Linked DNA regions of Homo sapiens: regions 1 and 2 are each linked to region 3. Evidence: fine-mapped expression QTL. A gene starts in region 3. Each other region holds a variant in brackets. All regions are shown on one strand. Distances are between the middles of the regions.

Region 1 (4,126 bases), 26 kb before region 3:
AATGATATCTCATAGTTACTTGAGGAAAAAGACCCAGGGCACTGCAGAGTGGAGGATGCTCTCTTTACTTACTGAGTACCTTTTGATAGTTTAAATTTTCTCATTTTAAATATATAAACTATTTGTTCATGTCAAAGCACCTTATCAAGCTGGAGATTATTGACCTTTTTAATGTTTGCCTTCTTTTTTTTTTAATTACATTTTTGGTTAGAATAAATGGGTACTAATGCAAGAAAGGAACTGAATGGAACAGTCTAGGTGGAAGGAGATCATTGTCTAGATGAGCATTTAACCTGTGATTAAGGAGGGACCCAAAGCAGAGGGAAATGGGAGAATCGGCAGCTCAAAGGGGTTGGAAAAACCAGACAGTGACTAGAACAATTCAGGGAGTGCCTCGCTTTGCACTGAAACACAAAACAAGTTCCATTTAGATTATAAAGTTATATGCAAAAATCACATCATTGAAAAAAATATCTCCATAAGAAGTTAGAGGAGTTCGTCTTGTGTTGGCAAAAGGTCTTTCTACAGTAGTGAGCAATGAAAAGGTAAAAGTATCTACAGATTTCACTGGTTAAAAATTAAAGCTTCTACACCTGAAAATATTAGAACAAAAAGGGGCAAGAAGAAATTAGGAATCTACTGTCTGAATGTGAGAAAAAGCATGAGTAGGAGAGCAGGCCTTCTCATAAAGACTCTGAGAGACAAGACACTGATCTTACGCAAAAACAGTGAAAACAAAGAAATGTTCGTTTAAAACAATGTTTTCCTAAATAGCAAAAAAAAGAAAAAAAAAGAAAAGAAAAAGCCCTTCAATGTCAAATCAAAATACATGAACTGGTACAAACCAACACTAGGGGGCTGTGTGCATGTGTGTACCTGTATGTGTGGGTACGTGCATGTGTGTGTGCATGTGTGTACATGCATGTGTGTGCATGTGCGTGTATGTGCGTGTACACAGTAAGCAGCACTGTTACAGGCTGACTTGGAAATTGTGCTTCTTCTTGGAATCCTCCATACAACCATATGCAGAAATTTGGGCAGAGATTTAGATCCAAATATGTTTAATGCAATAATAATTTCAGAGTAAATTTAAAATCCCTGCTGTTATGAGCAAGGGCTCCCTAACTTCTGTAGGAGCACACAGTGGAGACCGTGCAGCCTTATTCAGTCATCAACAAACCCTGTGACCCCCACTCTATTCCTCTGGAGCTCCAGTTTCTGAGGACATGGCAAGGACAGGACAGGGACTAAGAAGCAGACATTTGGAAGAGTGCCTGTCCCCTTGTGAGGGTGGCTGCTTTTTCCCACGCAGCCCCGTCCCCTGCAGTCCCATCTCCCTCAGGCTCCACTTCCCCTTTGACCAGGAGAGCCGAGGCATGGCCTTCACCCCCTGCCTACAAGGTCTTGGAGGGGCCTGTCCCCAACTCACCAGCAGACACTGTGCCTCCCCTGGGGACTGTACAGTGACACCTGTCAAATCTGCCGGCTCCTGGCTTTCCATTTGCTGCTCAGAGACGAAAGTGGACAGCGAGTCTGCGTTGCTCAGAATCTCGTTGTGAGCATTGTCCTCAGCCCCAGGCCCTCGTAGGAGACCCAAGCGCCAGAAACACACCTTAGGAAGGCAAAGAGCCAACTCAGAAGCCCACACCCAGGGCTCCCCACGGGGTCCGTAGGGCACGGCTGGACCTGCTGCCACCACCCCCTCCCAGTGAGGTCACTCCAGGAAGTCCATGCTCAGCACATCCAGGACCTGCTGCTGGGGCCAGGCCCTGGTGCTGGGCTTGGGGGCTCACCCCATCCCCAGGGTACAGGCTGTGGGGTAAGGGTCTCACCTGGGCTGTAGGAAGCACAGGGCTACAGAATGGCCCACCAGCCTGTATGATGCTCAAAAGGGCCTGTGTCCCCCATAGTCAATGCACAGCATCCAGGCCACTTCAGAGACTCAGGGCAGCCATGAGAGCACGGGGACCCACCCACCTGGACTACACTGTGGGCAAGAAGCAGTTCCTGAGCCCCTGATGCCCCCAGCTCCTGGAGAAATCAACTCACCCTGTCCATGCACTTGGGGTCCCCTCCACAACCTAGAAGAGAAGACGGTTCCCTTAGTGGCCAGGGAGGGGCCCATGCAGCACTCCTTCTTAGAGGGCAGTGTTGGGCAGGGGTGGGCTGGGGGCTGGGACACTGGACAAAGATCCCCGGGCCTGGGGATCCACATGAGGCCCTGCTAACTCGGGAGATCCTTCAGGAGCGGGGAGCATAAAGGGAAGTAGGCTAAAAACAAACAAGTGGAACATCACTGTTTTCTGCTCTGTGTTTTGCTCTGAACAAAGCTACATAAATCCCACAACCACTTCTCGTCTCGACTCTTGTCATCCAGTTGAGGAGCTGACTGCCCCCTGCCTGGATGGGCCTGA[C/A]CAGTGGAGGAACTGGCCCTGCCTTCCCAGACTTGGCTGGGAGATGAGGGGACCCCCAGCCTTGGGAGAGGGACGGATGACACCAGGGCCCTAGGGTTGCACAGGATGGGAGGATGGGGGGTGATCACAAGGAGGAAGATAGAGCCCGGCCAGAGACACTAGGACTTGGGGCAGGGGTGAGCGTTTCTGTCTGTGGGAACAGAAGAAGGCAGGGCAGAGAGTGCCCAGAGCCCTTGCCCTCAGCCAGCACCTACCTGAGCCGATGCAACAACAGACAATCAGCACAGCCACCAACAGCAACGGAACAACCAAAGTCACAACCAAAATCACCCATATATTATGTCCATTGCCTGAGAAAAGACAGGAAAAGACAGGAGTCTCGGGCTGCTGGTCCCTGTCTCCTCTGCAGCTGGGGCTTCCCCAGTGGGCTTTGTACCTGATTCTTTGTGGACACACTCGATGTCACTCCAGGGCGTACAATCCTTGACCTTGACCATCCCTCTGGGGCACCTGGGTACACACAGGGAGGGAGGGGGGGGACTCTTGATGGAAAGCTGGCCAGGTGGGATGAAAGAGGAGCCACTCTCCCTGCCCAATGTCCCTGAGAAGGCGTCAGGGGAAGGATAGTCTCCTCGTATCTGCAGGGGGTCCCCCTATGCTCCCTTGTTTAGGCTGGGGAAGGGTCTGAGCATGCACACTTTACCCCCTTGGCCTCCCTGCTCTGGGGTCAGAGCTGCAGTTCCAGGAGCCTTCTGTGCTGGGCACACACTAATCTTCCCTGGGCTGCAGGGGAGGCCTGCGTTAGGAGGAATCACACTCCAGGGGAAGATCACAAGCCCGTGTGGCCACAAGCTGAGCCCCTTCCTCCAGTTAACCCACAGTACAAGTGAGCCCTCGCCCCCACCTGTCTGCTGGTTCCTCTCAATCACAGCAAACACTGGAGGACCAGAGAAGAGCAATTACTCTTTGCTTCCAAAACCAAAATAGGAAAAAGACAGGACTTATTGAGAAATCAGGGGCCAGGGGTGAGGCTGGCTGGGTGGGCTCAGGTCCTCATGGGAACTTGAAGGAGCTCCACCCATGGCCTTATTATGATTTTTGCGGGCTGTGGGCATTTCTGTCTTCTTGAATTAAAAGCAAATATTAAAAATTACATTTTATGACTCAATTTGTTTAAATATAAATATAACCCCAGCTGGATTCTATACCATTATTTTCTTATGATTTCAAGATAAAATATTTCATGTACCTCTGTTGTGGGCCCTAAGTCATGGCCTCCTGTGCCTAGTGAACAAGTCAGCCTGGCCAAGGGGACTAGTGCTGGGGAGGGGTGAGAAGGGGCCACTGCAGGGGACAGGGGTGGGGACAGGCAGATGGACCAGGAGGGGCAGGTTGCAGGCTCAGGAGACGCCACAGGCTCAGGGACACCTATGGGGGTGGAGGCACCATGGGGTCAGGGCTGATAGATACGGGTACAAGGAGACTCGGGTCTTTTTAGGGTTCCTTGCTTCTGTGGGTTCTTTGAGGCTGCTGGGAGCCCCTTGGCTGTTGTCTCACCCTCTGCTGCACTTCCGGCACATCTCAGCAGAATTGTCATTCCGGAAAGTTCCTGGTTTGCACTGACATGCTGTGTTCCTGGTCGTGGTGCAGGGACTTCTCTCTTCTTCATCTGATGACAGAGTACAAGGTTTTGGGAATGTGTTTCCCTGACG
Region 2 (4,126 bases), 30 kb after region 3:
ATCCATCGTCTCCCAATTGGCAGTTAGCTTTCTGTTAATCTAGCCATGTCAGTTTCCTTCAGTGACCACCCACCATCTACAGAATAAAGGATCATCATAAGATATTACACTTTCTATAATATAGGATATTACACTTTCTATAATATAGGAGTGCTTCTCCTCTCTCTCCTTTCCCCTCTACATTTGTACACGTGCCGCATTGACCCACCCTTCTATGCTCATGTTCCTCTCTCTTCCCGAGATACCCGTTTCACCTCTTCACCTAGGAACTTGCTCACTCTTCAGAATTCTGCTCAACTTTTTTTTTTTTTCAAGAAATCCTGAATCCCCAGGCAGTCCTTCCCTATATTTTCATAGCATCCCATGGACACCTCAGTCTTTCTTGTTTCTGGTAGTAATTTCCATGTATGAGCGAAATGGTGACATTATTTCTTGGAACTTATATTTCTTACTCTTGTCACTAATCTTATCCCATCTGTTTATTATGTACTTTTCTTTGTTTTTTGTTTTGTTTTGTTCTGTTTGAGACAGAGTTTTGCTCTTGTCGCCCAGGCTGGAGTGCAGTGGCGCGATCTCGGCTCACTGCAACCTCCGCCTCCCAGGTTCAAGTGATTCTCCTGCCTCAACCTCCCAAGTAGCTGGGATTACAGGTGCCCGCCATCACATCCAGCTATTTTTTTTTTTTGTATTTTTAGTAAAGACAGGGTTTTGCCATGTTGGCCAGGCTGGTCTCGAACTCCTGACCTCAGGTGATCCTGACCTCAGGTGATCAGCCTCCCAGAGTGCTGGGATTACAGGCATGAGCTGCCACGCCTGGCCCTTTTCCCTTAAGGCTTTTTACAGAGTCAATAATGTTTGTGTTTGCAGTATAGCCAATTGGCAGGAAAATGGAGAGACTACAATTGGAAGGGAATTAGATGTCATTTCATCCACCCTCTTCAGAGAGTGATACTGAGGACTAGTGAGGCTGTGACTGGCCCAAGGTCACCCAGGCTAGGCTGGAAATCAGGCCTCAGCTCTCGTTCACAGCTGTTCTACCTCACCTCACCTCCTCAGTCTTCCCTTGGGAAACCACAGGCCAGTGAGAGGCAGGAGTGTAAAATCCCCGATGGGCGTGCAGCGCAGAGCTGGCTCCCAGCATCTCATGTGCCTCATTTCATGTGGAGTCACCAAACTTTCCTCCAAGGCTTAAAAACACAGATCCTTCCTCCTTTTTGAAAAGCCGCTACTTTGGGGAGGATGGGGTTGGGATTCCCGGGTGCTTGCCTTGTGTGATCATGGTTTTGAAACTCAGGGTCAGGGTCCCTGCATCCCATGGCAGTGGCCAGGGCCTGTCAGCCAATGTTGCCTTTCCCACAGGAAAAGGCTGAGGAGGTGTATCGTCTGTATCAGAACTCGCCCCTCTCCTCCCACCCCGTGGTGGCCCTGTCAGAGCTCAGCACCCTCTGTGCTAACTCCTGCCCAGATGAGAGGACCTTCTACTTGGTGTTGCTGCAGCTGCAGAAGGAGAAGAGGGTCACAGTCCTCGAGCAGAACGGGGAGAAGGTATGGAGGCTCATCTGTTCATTCACTGACTCAGCAGTGATTGATTAAGTACATAGAGTAGTGAGCCCTTATCTCAGATTTTGGTTTCCAGAGTTTCAGTAACCTGCCGTCAACCACGGTCCAAAAATAATAAGTGGAAAATTCCAAACATTAACAGTTCCATAGATTTCAGTTGTGCACTGTTCTGAGTAGTGTGATGGGACCTCGTAGTATCCCGCCTGTATGCGCATCCCTGCTTTGTCCAGCATCTCCCCGCCTGAGTCACTTAGGAGTCGTCTCAGTGATCAGATTGACTGTCACAGCATTGCAGTGGTTGTGTTCAAGCCACCCTTATTGTACTTTTTTTTTTTTTTTTTGAGATGGAGTCTTGCTCTGTCGCCCAGCAATGGCGCAATCTGAGCTCACTGCAGCCTCCGCCTCCCGGGTTCAAGCGATTCTTCTGCCTCAGCCTCCCAAGTAGCTGGAATTACAGGCATG[C/T]GCCACGGCCCCTGGCTAATTTTTGTATTTTTAGTAGAGAAGGGGTTTCACCAGTTAGCCAGGCTGTCTTGAACTCCTGACCTCAAGTGATCTGCCTGCCTCGGCCTCCCAAAGTGCTAGGATTACAGGTGTAAACCACCGTGCCTGGCCTATTATACTTAATAATGGCCCCAAAGCACAAGAGCAGTGGTGCTGGCAGTCCAGATTTACCAAAGAGAAGCGGTCAAGTGCTTCCTTTAAGTGAAAAGGTAAAAGTTCTGGACCAAATAAGGAAGACCAAATATCATTTGCTGAGTTTGCTAGGATCTACAGTAAGAATGAATCTTCTATAGGAAAAATTGTGAAGAAGGAAAAATGTTTACATAGCTATATGTATAGGGTTCAGTATTCTCTGAGGGTTCAGACCTCCACAGGGGATTCCATTCACTGGAACATATCCCCCATGGATAAGGGGGGCCTGCTGTTCTCACATGCCCACCACCAGCGCTCCTGGTTGGGAATTTCTCAGCCTTTGTGGTAGCAGCAGTAGTAATTTCTCCCTGTCCCTCAGATTGTGAAGTTTGCCCGAGGGCCACGTGCCAAGGTCTCTCCAGTCAATGACGTAGATGTTGGGGTGTACCAGCTGATGCAGAGTGAACAGCTTCTCTCACGCAAAGTGGAGTCCTTATCCCAGGAAGCAGAGAGGTAACTTTTAACCCTGAACTGAGCCTCCTCCCCACTGTTGCTGGCCCCCAGAGCCAGCAAAATGTTAGTATATGTGGGCTTTTAAAAAATAGGTGGGTTTTTTTTTTTTTTAGCTAATTACAAAAGTACTCACTGCTCAATGCAGAAATCATGGAAAGCACAGAATATCACAAAAGAGAAAAAAAAATGAGGCCTCTTTTTTTTTTTTTTTTTTTTTGAGACGGAGTCTCGCTCTGTCACCCGGGCTGGAGTGCAGTGGTGCGATCTCGGCTCACTGCAAGCTCCGCCTCCTGGGTTCACGCCATTTTCCTGCGCCAGCCTCCCGAGTAGCTGGTACTACAGCCACCCGCCACCACGCCTGGCGAATTTTTTATATTTCTAGTAGAGATGGGGTTTCACTGTGTTAGCCAGGATGGTCTGAATCTCCTGACCTCGTGATCCGCCCGCCTCTGCCTCCCAAAGTGCTGGGATTACAGGCGTGAGCCACCGTGCCCGGCCTTTTTTTTTTTTTTTTTCCTCAATTGAGACAGGGTCTTGCACTGTCCCCTAGGCTGGAGAGCAGTGACATGATCTTAGCTCACTGCAGTCTAACTCCTGAGCTCAAGCAATCTTCCCGCCTTAGCCTCCTGAGTAGCTGGGACCACAAGTGTGCACCACCATGCCTGGCTAATTTTTAATTTTTTGTTGAGATGGGGTCTCACCATGTTGCCCAGGCTGGTCTCACACTCCTCGGCGCAAACAAGACCCCCACCTCAGCCTCCCAAAGTGCTGGGATTACTGGGGTGAGCCACTGTGCCCAGCTGAAAACGTGAGTCTTAATGCTTCCCCCACAGACCATGACTGTGAATGTTATGTTTATGCTCTTCCTTGCCAGTGTCCATTCAACTAATATTTATTGAGCCAGGCATTGTCTTAGGGACTGGGGATACAGCCGTGGACAAGACAGGTCCCTGCCTTTGCAGAGGTCTTTCTGAGGGGCTCTTCCCCTGCCCTTCCCCCTGAATGACTGTACAAGGAATCCCTAATAAAGACACACCCTCTGGCAGGAGAACACAGACATTGAAGTCTGTCTTCCAGGTGGGAAAGTCTAGCCTTGTTGGGAGGCAGAGGATATGTCCGAGGTCATTGTTGGTGTTAACAGTTCCTTCCCTGTCTCCCCAAAACAGGAAGATGTGTATAATGTGCCCTGTTTGCATGTTCTGTCCCTGTGGGTTGAAAAAGCTTATCCTTAGTCAGCCTGCTTGAGCCTGCCACAACAGACTGTCAACAGACTTGCCACAAGAGTTTTTGCCGTCAGCATCAGTTTTCTTGCCACTGGGTATTGGGTTTAGTCTTCAGATTTAAAACCACCTTAACTGAGTGCTGCTCTCAGGGACCCTTTGGGACCCTGCCACTCCCATCCTGTGGCACAGTAATCTTA
Region 3 (4,126 bases):
GATGTTTCACCTTGTCTATACAGGTGAGCCCTACATCCACCTGGAATCGCACTAGCCTGTCAAAAAGAAAGCCATTTAATAAGCGTATTAAAAATAAGAGTCAAACGTGGGTTCCACCTAACATAAACTGACGTTTAAAACATAAATTCTGTAATTATTTGGAGATTTCAAAATGCTATTGGATTCCTGGATTTTGTTTAGTTTGTTAAACAAAAACACGTAAAATTTCCTGACACTTGTAAGACTGGTTTATCCTTCAGGTACTTAGCTTTCGTTTTGTTTTTCCTTAACATAGAAGGAATCTGGATGAGAACAATTGGTAGAGCCTTAATGAACTTGAAAGAGAACTGAAGGCATTGGCATTTTTCCAGACTGAGTGATTGCTTTCACAGGAAACGCTGCCTCCTGAAGGAAGGGCGTGCCCCGCTCCTGGCTGCCTGCCTCGTGGTGGTCAATTCGCTGCCCTGTACCTGTTGATGCGCAAGAAAGTGGCTGGAAGGAAACTGCTGCCGGTGTGCTCAGTGGACTCGAAACGGAAGACAACGAGCAGAGGAGAGAAAGTTACTTTTTCCTGCCGGGCTGCGTGTTTAACCAATTTGTCTAAGAAAAGAAGGATGGAGGGCCGGGCGCGGTGGCTCACGCCTGTAATCCCAGCACTTTGGGAGGCCGAGGCGGGCGGATTTGGCTAACACAGTGAAACCCCGTGACTACTAAAAATACAAAAAATTAGCCGGGCGTGGTGGCAGGAGCCTGTACTCCCAGCTACTCGGGAGGCTGAGGCAGGAGAATCGCTTGAACCAGGAAGGCGGAGCTTGCAGTGAGCCGAGATCGCGCCACTACACTCCAGCCTGGGCGACAGAGAGAGACTCCGTTTCAAAAAAAAAAAAAAAAAAAAAAAGAAGAGAAGAAAAGAAGGACGGGGGTGGGGAGGGAATCAGGGAGTGGGGAGAATGGCGCTCCCCTTCACGCAGCTGGTGTGGCTGGGAGTTGGCTTGGAAGTTTACACACTTGAGCTCTATCGATTCCGAAACTTCCCGATACATCGTGAGGTGTGGGCAGGAGGGAGACGCGCCAGGCAGCAGCCAACGGGGTGGAGTCCCCGGGCCCAGCCTCCTGCGGGAGGGGGCTCTGCTGCCTCCAGGCCCGGGTCGCTCCTGCCTGGCCCCGGGGACCCCGTTCTTCCTCCGACTCCGACGACGGGCTCCTCCTGCCCGGACATGCCCCGCCACAAGTGACCCGGGCCAGGCACCCCCGCCGCGTCCCCCTCTCTCTCTGCCCCCTCCCGGTGCCAGGCGCGCTTTTCCCCAGGCAGGACCGCGGTGGGGACTCACCTGCAGCAGGACCCCGACGACGACAAACTTGAAGGTCTTGTGGACCCGGAGCCGAGGGCTGGCTTCCCGCGCCGGCCTGGGTCCTGGGGCGCGCCCTGCCCGGGCCCGGGCACTGGGTCCGTGCTGTCCCATGGAGGTAGGGAGCGCTCCTCGGCCCCCGCCTCGTGGTTCAATCCTCCCCGCGGAAGAGCCCCACACTTTGCTGGGTGTGGCCGCGGCTGCCTCTGTCCCACTCGCTGCGCTCCCGGGATTCGGAGTCACTGCCAGGAACGCACCTAGATGTACTCTAGCTGGTGGTGGCGCCATCCTGCCAGGTCAATCCAAGAAGCAGCGTGCTTGGCTATGACAAGACAGAACTTCGCATTCGGAGTTCAGGGCACCCCTGACCCCGCCCCCTTTTCGGGGCACCTGCGGCTCCTGTTGGCTAACCCTGAACTTCCTTCCTCTGTGACCGCCCTTGCCGCTCTCAGCTTCTGTTCCTCAACCACGGCCGCCGCGTGGATGCCGCTGCATTCGGAGTCGTTTTGCCACTTGGTCCCAGCGCCAGGCTTCTCGGTCGGGAGTTGACCTCAGCCTTTCTGTGACCCAGTTCCTGGCACCCAGCAGGCGCTCGGTGGACGGATGGGTGGCGGAATGAAGGACACAGAGGCCACTGCGGGGTCTGGCCTCTAAGAGGCTTTTACGGCCTCCTCCGTCACTACCGGGCGAGTGATTCAGCCTGCCTTTTTTTTTTTTTTTTTTTTTTGAGATGGAGTCAAGCTCTGTCGCCCAGGCTGGAGTGCAGTGGCACGATCTCGGCTCACTGCAACCTCCGCCTCCCAGGTTCAAGCGATTTTCCTGCCTCAGCCTCCTGAGTAACTGGGATTACAGGTGCCCGCCACCACGTCCGGCTAATTTTTTTTCTATTTTTAGTAGAGACGGGGGTTTCACTGTTTTGGCCAGGCTGGTCTCGAGCTCCTGATCTCGTGATCCGCCCGCTTCGGCCTTACAAAGTGCTGGGATTACAAGCGTGAGCCACCGTGCCCGGCTCATCCTGCTTTTGGTTTCAGGTCTCCATGCCAGTGAAATGTCACCTCAACTCCACCGTCCCTGGTGTCAGGCAAGCCCGAGGGACCCAATTCTGCCTTTCTTCTGGATTTTCCTAACCTGTTAAGAGTCTTGAAAGTCCTTAAACCACGGGAGACTATCTGGCACATGACACGGGATGAGACTTGGTGGGGGTCCCACGGGGGACAGGTCCTTCCAGCGGTTCCTCTGCACCCAGCGCTGCACGGGCATGGGGCGTGGGTAATCAGCCTCCCGAAAGCCACGCGAGTCACGGTCCTGCCTGCGAAGAACTCCCAGGGCGACCTTGGGGCTGAGGAGTGGGTAAGAGAAAGGGGGCGCTGATTGATGTTCATTTTTCTCCATATTTTAATGGTGTTCCGGTACCATTTGTTGAAAAGACTCTTTTCGACCGGGCGCGGTGGCTCACGCCTGTAATCCCAGCACTTTGGGAGGCCGAGGCGGGCGGATCACCTGAGGTCAGGAGTTCGAGACCAGCCTGACCGACATGGAGAAACGCAGCCTCTACTAAAAATACAAAATTAGCGGGGCGTGGTGGCGGATGCCTGTAATCCCAGCCACTCGGGAGACTGAGGCAGGAGAATCGCTTGAACCCGGGAGGCAGAGGCTGCGGGGAGCCGAGATGGAGCCATTGCGCTCCAGCCTGGGCCACAAGAGGGAAACTCCGTCTCAAAAAAAAAAAAAAAAAAGACTTTTTTTCCTTATCCAATAGCCTTATCACTTTTGTTGAAATTAAATTGACCATATATATGTATGTGTCCATTTCCGGACTCTATTCTGTTCCGTTTATTTATTTGGCTATTCTCATGCTAATTACCACATTGTCCTAATTATGAGCTGTATAGTCAGTCTTGAAATCAGGCAGTTCAAGTCCTCCCCCTACTACCCACCTCCCAAATGGTTTGCATTTCCGTATATATTAAATATAGAATAATTTTTTTCAGTTAAAAAAGCCTACTGGAATTTTAATTGGGATTGCATTGAATGTAGAGATGAATGAGAATAATTGACATTTTAACAATTTTGAGTCTTTCAATCCATGAAATTTATTTATTTAGATATTTGTTACTTAAGCTTGACAATATTTTGCAAACTTTCCATGTACAAATCTTTCATATCTTTTGTAAACATATTTCTAACTATTTTTGTTACTATTGCTAATGGAATTGATTTAGCTTCCCTTATTTTCAAATTGTTTGTTGCAACTATACAGAAATACAGTTGATTTTTGTCCATCGGCCTTGTATGCTATGGTACTGCTAAATTGATATATTTCTAGTTGTTATTTTATAGATTATTTAGGATTTTCTATGTAAGCAATCCTATTGTCAGTAACCAAAAACTGTCTCAGTTCTTCCTTTCCAATCTTTATACCTTCTATTCATCTTTGTTGCTGAATTGCCCTGGATAGGATTTCCAGTACAATGTTAAATAGAAATAGTTAAAGCAGACATGCTTATCTTATTCCATATCTTAGAACACATCTAATTAATCACCATTAGATATGATGTTAGTTATAGTTTCCTCATAGATGCCTGCTGTAGTTTGAATGTCCTCTCCAAAACTCATGTTGAATTTTTTTTTTTTTTTTTTTTTTTTTGAGACAGAGTCTCACTCTTTCGCCCAGGCTGGAGTGCAGTGGCCTGATCTCGGCTCATTGCAACCTCCACCTCCTGGGTTCAAGCAATTCTTCTGCCCCAGCCTCCCCAGTAGCTGGGACTACAGGCACA

What was found. PIP is the estimated chance that this variant, and not a neighbour inherited with it, causes the effect. A credible set is the group of variants that fine-mapping cannot tell apart.
Region 1: its variant is the best candidate, but not a certain one, in a credible set for the expression of TNFRSF10A in whole blood (TOPMed, PIP 0.69).
Region 2: its variant is the best candidate, but not a certain one, in a credible set for the expression of TNFRSF10A in esophagus muscle (GTEx, PIP 0.75).

The regions. Positions count from the first base shown.
Region 1 is chr8:23,197,837-23,201,962 of GRCh38, forward strand. TNFRSF10A (TNF receptor superfamily member 10a) reads right to left here. Exons shown (of 10, transcript NM_003844.4): 4 at 3,972-4,083; 5 at 2,851-2,924; 6 at 2,669-2,764; 7 at 2,050-2,081; 8 at 1,430-1,612. Among named protein-coding and RNA genes, the nearest start is that of TNFRSF10A, 25 kb to the right of the region's middle. The variant C/A (reference allele first, on the strand shown) is at 2,415.
Region 2 is chr8:23,253,888-23,258,013 of GRCh38, forward strand. It overlaps CHMP7 (charged multivesicular body protein 7), which reads left to right. Exons shown (of 11, transcript NM_152272.5): 4 at 1,360-1,545; 5 at 2,573-2,706. Among named protein-coding and RNA genes, the nearest start is that of CHMP7, 12 kb to the left of the region's middle. The variant C/T (reference allele first, on the strand shown) is at 2,023.
Region 3 is chr8:23,223,425-23,227,550 of GRCh38, forward strand. TNFRSF10A (TNF receptor superfamily member 10a) reads right to left here and starts at 1,678. Exons shown (of 10, transcript NM_003844.4): 1 at 1,332-1,678. The coding sequence starts at 1,637. TNFRSF10A-DT (TNFRSF10A divergent transcript) reads left to right here and starts at 1,797. Exons shown (of 3, transcript NR_033928.1): 1 at 1,797-2,699. RefSeq lists promoters at 1,170-2,206, 1,635-3,440, 1,635-2,288, a cis regulatory region at 1,170-1,249, silencers at 1,271-1,520, 1,688-1,879 and an enhancer at 1,931-2,070.